Linked DNA regions of Homo sapiens: region 2 is reported to be linked to region 1. Evidence: microRNA targets listed by miRTarBase, many of them from high-throughput screens and not tested one by one. Region 1 holds a microRNA gene; the other region holds the end of a gene's coding sequence.
Evidence for each region. The annotated mature microRNA hsa-miR-628-5p reads AUGCUGACAUAUUUACUAGAGG and lies in region 1 at 1,977-1,998, shown strand. An mRNA with a match to its seed (bases 2 to 7 or 8) in the 3' UTR can be bound and repressed. Matches are read on the target gene's strand: a 7mer-m8 pairs with bases 2 to 8, a 7mer-A1 pairs with bases 2 to 7 and ends in A, and an 8mer does both.

Region 1 (3,000 bases):
AGTTGCCAAAAGTTTTTGTTTTGGGGCCGGGCACTTTGGCTCATGCCTGTAATCCCTGCACTTTGGGAGACTGAGGCAGGCAGATTACCTGAGGTAAGGAGTTTGAGACCAGCCTGACCAACACGGCAAAAACCCTTCTCTACTGAAAATACAAAATTTAGCCAGGTGCCTGTAATCCCAGCTACTTGGGATTAGCTGCCTGTGGTAGCGCAGGCCTGTAATCCCAGCTACTCTGGAGGCTGAGGCAGGAGAATCTCTTGAACCCAGGAGGCGGAGGTTGCAGTGAGCCAAGATTGCGCCACTGCACTCCAGCCTGGGCAATAGAGGGAGACCCCGTCTCAAAAAAATAAAAAAGATGGTTTTTGTTTTTCCCTTTTAGTTTGTTAATTTTGTGCTAGCCATTGCTTAATTTTGTTTTTTCCTTTCCCTTTCTTCATCCTTAAGGATTTCAACTTCAATTTTTTCTTCTCCTGACTTATATTCTTGTGGCAGTGTACGTTTTGTTGGGTTAAGAACACTGCCTGCTTCCTCTTTATGAACTCTCTTCCCTGACAAAAAGCAAAGTTGGTAGTGTAGAGAAGTTTGTATTGTGTGTTTTTAAGAAGGCATGGTTATTACGTTTTAATTTTGTACGGATAACAATGTTAAGTGATAATTAAGTATTTTTAATTCTTTTTTTTCTTTTTAGTCTTTATAATATAGCTTTATGCCTCTTTTTTTCCTGTTTATTCACAAAAGAAAGGTGGTGGGAGAAGCTGTGGAAGATTCCTGAGTGCATATGGGGATGGGATGATCAGCTGAAACACCATGTTCCTAGCCAACTCGCTTTCCAAGGTGGTGTGACTAAATCTGACCAGCTTCTCTAGAGCTGAGTGTGCCTAGTCACATTTACTATTTACCGAGTGCTTTAAAGATACCTGTTGTCATCCGCAATACTCTAAACAGGTGTTCAGAATCTCTTGTAAAGGAGCTGGCCAAGCTTATTGCATGCCTTTGCATTGCTTGCATCTATGGGCCAAATTAAGCTTTTTTAAAAGAAGTTAAAAATCAAAATATTTCAGCTATTATATGTATGGGTTAAAAAAGTTGGAAGCATTAGATAAGGACATGAATATATTAATGTGGGTTAGGCTGTTTTGTTAGAATATATAATGAAGGTAATGTTAATGTAGAATTGAACAATTATTTAAATAAGTTTTACAAATGGTTTGTTTTTACATTTACCTATCTTAATTTTATGTCAGAAAGCCTGACTTAAATACTCTAACCATGATCATGAATGCCTTTGTATTATGTAATGCTTTGTTTAAGTCTTCCTTTCTTTCTCTTTGTCCAAGAAATATAATCTCACACCTGAGGCGACGGCATCTTTGAAAAACTAGTGATCAAGAATAACCAGATAAACATGATGGGCATAAGGGTCATGACCAAAAAGATCTCTCAGTGGCATCTGTATCACTAAATATTAGGAATATTCATTCATTTCAGTAGTGCCTTCTGTCTTTGTGTTTATTGTTGTAAGTGTGAAAGTGAACTGAATACTCCATGATCCATCTCTGAAAAATATTGCCTAACCTAAATCACCAGCTTTCCTGTGGCATGGATATCCTGTCTTCTGAAGAACTGTTTTTGCTTTTCTGGAGCATGAATGTTTGTTGTTTTAGAGCTCTTTGTATTCGAGTTCATATTTTATCCTTATTTTTAGTGCTTTTCCTCTAAGTAGCTTGTGGAAATTATTTCTGAGTAATTGAAGCTTCTGTGTCAACATAATAGTTTGTTGACATAAGAAACAGTGTTAAGAAATTATGCATTTGGAAAAAACTGAAGGTGATTTTTTCCAGGGAATTTGTTTCCTGGACTTGGGATTTCTTGTGCAAATTTTCCCCACTAGTTTGTTTTTCTCTACTATTATTTTCATAAAGGAGCAGCACCAGAATAGTCCTTAATATCGGAGATAGCTGTTGTGTCACTTCCTCATGCTGACATATTTACTAGAGGGTAAAATTAATAACCTTCTAGTAAGAGTGGCAGTCGAAGGGAAGGGCTCATCTGACTTCTGGAAACCTATGTTAAAATACAGTGCTTTGAACCTTGATCATGGGCTAATTAGGTTGGAAATGAAACTAGAGACCAGATACACCCAAGGAAACTTTTGGTAGTTATTTTACTTTATAAGTCACAGGAAATGCTTGTGTACTTTCCTGTGTTCCTTAAATAGTTGCACTTAAATTACCTCTTTGAAACTGAATGAAGAGACAGAGAGTATTTTTTTTCTTTCCAGAAATAATACTTGTTTATACCTGTAATAGCAATGAAATTTTGTTTCTTTTGAGACAGAGTTTTGCTCTGTCTCCCAGTCTGGAGTATAGTGGCAGGATCTCAGCTCACTGCAACCTCCACCTCCCAGGTTCAAGTGATTCTCCTGCCTCAGCCTCCCAAGTAGCTGGGACTATAGGTGCACTACCATGCCCGGCTAATTTTTGTATTTTTAGTAGAGAAGGGGTTTCGCCATGTTGGCCAGGCTGATCTCGAACTCCTGACCTCAGGTGATCTGCCCGCCTCGGCCTCCCAAAGTGCTGGGATTACAGGCGTGAGCCACTGCTCCTGGCCAGCAATGAAACTTGAGGCTATGCGAATGAAGGATTGTTCTAAGAGTGTAAACTATAAGGCGAGGAGGATTAAATAAAAAAACAGAGATAGGCTCTCAAAGCACCAAATAGTATGATTAACAGATTCTTGTGTATCACATTTGAAATGCTTTATGTTTTGGCTTTATGTTGATGAGTTGAAAACCCGTGTTTTTGTTTATGTTGTTTGGTTTTTGTTTTTGGCTATCTTATGTAGAAAGGCATGTAAGGGATGGCATTGATTATTCTAAATAATTTTTACTGGGAAAGCTTTTCCAAGATTTTGAATAGCTAAATGTCAACTTTTTTCTTAATAGTATTTTCATCTCAGCCTAGTGACGATGAATCAAGTAGTGATGAAACCAGTAATCAG
Region 2 (3,536 bases), not on the chromosome of region 1:
CATTTCTAAATAAAATCTCAAAATTTACAATAAGTTGAATGTAAATGAATGCAGACATGCGGGATTCTATTTAGCAGCATAAATTGCTGAAATGAAATTCAGAAAAGAACACACAAGGCAGACAAAGACAAAAGTATTAGAGACAAGAAAAATACGAAAACATGAGTAAACAGGCATTTTAAGATCCCCTCCGCAGAGTCAATTTCTTAGCATATTTGAAACCATTAACTATACTTTTCTTTTTCATTATTTTAAGGCAAATTTGATAAAATAGTCAGTGGTGAGGAAGTATATAGTGTGTTTGTGGATTTAATATATTCATACTCTTTCTCTAAATGTTCTAGACAACTAAAAAGCTAAGAAAAAAACACATTTTAGATATTCTTTATCTTTAAAAATACATATAAATATGTGTACTCTATGTTGTTTTTTATTGTGTGAAATTTTATTTTACTAATAATATTTTTAATATATTTTAACTAATTATCATAAATCAAGAGTATTGTATCCAAAGCAGCCAGAATATTAGATGTGGTCATAAAATAAGTTTCCAAATTTTGTCTGAATAACTAGGATTAGAAAGAAGTAACTAAAAAATGGTTTGGACATTCAAATTTGGATAGAAATAAAATTTATTTTCATAAGTCAATCCTAACACTTGAGCTTCATGTAAATTTTCCAAAGTCATTCATATTTTGATCATTACTGTCGGACCCACAAATATTTGGAAATTTTTTTTAAATTAAAAATGTTCCCACTTAATTGCTTTGAGCTCGCTATGAGTTCCTGGAATATTTTGTCCAAGCAAATCTATAATTACAAACACTGTTGTTACGCTATTCAATTAGAAGTCTGATCATGCCACACTGTTCTTCTGAATTACTTTTTAAATGAGTGATTTGTTCTGGTTCACTTTTATTAAAATTATTCCTTAGCTGTTCCTTATAGTGAAACACCTACAAATATTCATCAGTATAATATCAAAAGGGAGTACTCAATCTCATATATCAGTTTGACTACTTTGAGATAGGTAAGCAATGCAAATAAAATAAAAATAACAGAGAGAGAATGCTCTCAACATAGAGCCACAGATCTTGCATTAAGTTGCCCTCTAATCACAGGGTTTTCTCACAGACTTTTCTTTCAAGATATGTAGAATGCATGAGAAACGAGCAATGTCTGTTATTTTCTGAAAAGCTGCCTTCCATGTGAGGAAGTGACTAATTTTTCATTTCACACTATAAAGGGCGTGAAAAGGCAAAACAGAAGAAGGCTAAGGGTTCTGTGTTACAAGAAGGAAAGGTGAGTTCTGCTTAAACAGACAGGAAACACACCATGCATATTCAGAGGGAAAGTCAAATTGAAAACATTTGAAAGTACTAACAAAATATGAAAGATGTTTATGTTAATATTGTGAGTTTGGTTCTTTTTACATGTAGCAGGCTTATTTATTGTTAAATTACAAAAACAATACTACAATTACAACAGATTAACTCAGCAATGAGAAAAGGTTGAGTGAAGATGTCAAAGAGTTAATTTAACCCTTTCCGTTGTTAAAATTTTACACTCGTTCTGTTATTCAACAAATATATATCCCCACTCCCCAGAAATGTCATTTTCTTAATTCTCTGTGTGTTATATATTGTTTTCTCCTATTCACTCAAATATAATCACAAAATCCAATATACAGGAGAGAATAAAGGCAGTAAAAAGAAATAATATACAGAGTATGATAAATATTTTTTAAAAGAGAGAAAATATATACTGAAATATCATTGGTTATAAATAAAATGTCTACTCTTCCTATGATTCTTCAGAAGAATTTATGTTTCCTCAGATTTTGCTAGCAGTTTGTTATAATCTAGATTTTTTTTAACAGATGAATTACAAATTGGCAGCTACTTATACCCTAGTGAAAAGAGCTCCATTACATTACTCTCACTTTATTTGTGATTGTTCTTCCTTTTCATGGGGATATGAGTTTTCCCCAAAGCCAGAATTTATGGCTGTCTTTCCTTCTGTCTTCTAACAAATCCCATCTGCATGCCTTCCCATCAGGATGCATTATACATCATTATGTTTTCCTTGTTTTATTAAAATATTTTCCCATATCTTATTAAAGTATTTATTAAGCATTCTGTCCCTGTAGAGCTTAGTATATACTCTAAAAAACACATAACTAAGCACCAACTTCTCTCTGTGAACCTGTTACTCCTGACTAGTCAATAGAAATCCTGGGGGAAACATTAGTGCCCTTCAGTAAATCAATGTTGTAGTACACTAAATTTAACCCCAGTGGCCAGAAAGAAATAATGCACCTCTCCAAATTCCTATACCATTCTCCAGGAGTGAATGGCTCACTGAGAAAGTTCCTGTTGATAATGGGAGTTGTCTTAATTTGTGTCTGACCTCTTATTCCCTACCACAAGGTAGCTGGTTCTCAATAGGAATGATATATCTGTTCATAAGAACATAGCACAACTGCATGGTAAATTCCATGCTTAATGGACATTCGAGGGAATAAAGCACCTTATACACTATCAAATTCGGGGCTTGCTTAGCTCAACTATTTACATGACAATAAATTCCAAAACTCAAAACATAAAACATTTACAACTGTAAACCCCCTATTTTTAGGATAATTCTTATACTTTGCTTGTGCAAGATTTGTTCTTGGAAAACTGGTTCAAATGAATTTTTTGCCCTTTCTTATATTCATCACATATTGTCTTATTCAGATTATTGTCTTGTGCCTTAGCAAAACTCCATGGGAAGCATTTATGAATTACTATAAGGGATATACAAAACAGAAGGCAATGTTTTTATAGGTAAGGAATTCTTTTCTTTAAATTAAGTAGAAAACTACGTGGCTACAGCTCTAGGGAGCTCATCCAGGTCTCTGTGATGTCTTCGATTTCGTTTCTTCTTCATTTCCTGCATGTGCTTCCACTTTGGGCCCCCCTTGTTTCTCTGTCTCCGCTTCTCCCTGTGCCACATCTGTTCGCAGTACTGGTCGAGGCTGAAGTTTGGGCTGCTAAGGATTTGGATGTAGTCTTTGTATCTCAACCGTGACTCAGCCAATAGATCCTTGACCTTCCCCTCCTCATGCTCTGCCCTCTGGGTATTTTCCATCTGTTCATTCTCAATGACATTCAAAGTCAGCTTCACTATGGTGTGGATGAAAGTGTGCTCCTGGGCTTTGCAGTAATACATCCCAGAATCCTTCTTCTGCAAACTTCGAATCAGTAGCCCATATTCCGTTTTGATGATTCTTTCATCGGGCTTCAACTGCAGAATTGGAAAAATGTAGGTAATAAATTAAACACAGAGAGAGCTAAGAGCAAATGAAAACAGGCTACATAGTTTTACTTAGATGAATATGAAAGACATATTCATTGTCTCTCTGTCTCTGTCATCAAGCATAATATTGTCAGCCATAGTTAAAAAGAGTAAAAAAATTCAACAAAAGTAATAGCCCCCAAACTATATCCTTAATTTTTCACATTTGAATCTTAGTAAGTCTAACTGAACCTTTG

Region 2: miRTarBase lists SEMA3D as a target of hsa-miR-628-5p. Seed matches in the 3' UTR shown: 7mer-A1 at 84-90.

What each region holds. Positions count from the first base shown.
Region 1 is chr15:55,371,989-55,374,988 of GRCh38, reverse strand. It overlaps MIR628 (microRNA 628), which reads left to right and starts at 1,955; the gene lies at 1,955-2,049. CCPG1 (cell cycle progression 1) reads left to right here. Exons shown (of 9, transcript NM_001204450.2): 6 at 2,945-3,000. It overlaps DNAAF4-CCPG1 (DNAAF4-CCPG1 readthrough (NMD candidate)), which reads left to right. Exons shown (of 16, transcript NR_037923.1): 13 at 2,945-3,000.
Region 2 is chr7:84,996,578-85,000,113 of GRCh38, forward strand. SEMA3D (semaphorin 3D) reads right to left here. Exons shown (of 19, transcript NM_001384900.1): 19 at 1-3,288. The coding sequence ends at 2,863. Among named protein-coding and RNA genes, the nearest start is that of SEMA3D, 190 kb to the right of the region's middle. RefSeq lists an enhancer at 2,870-3,536.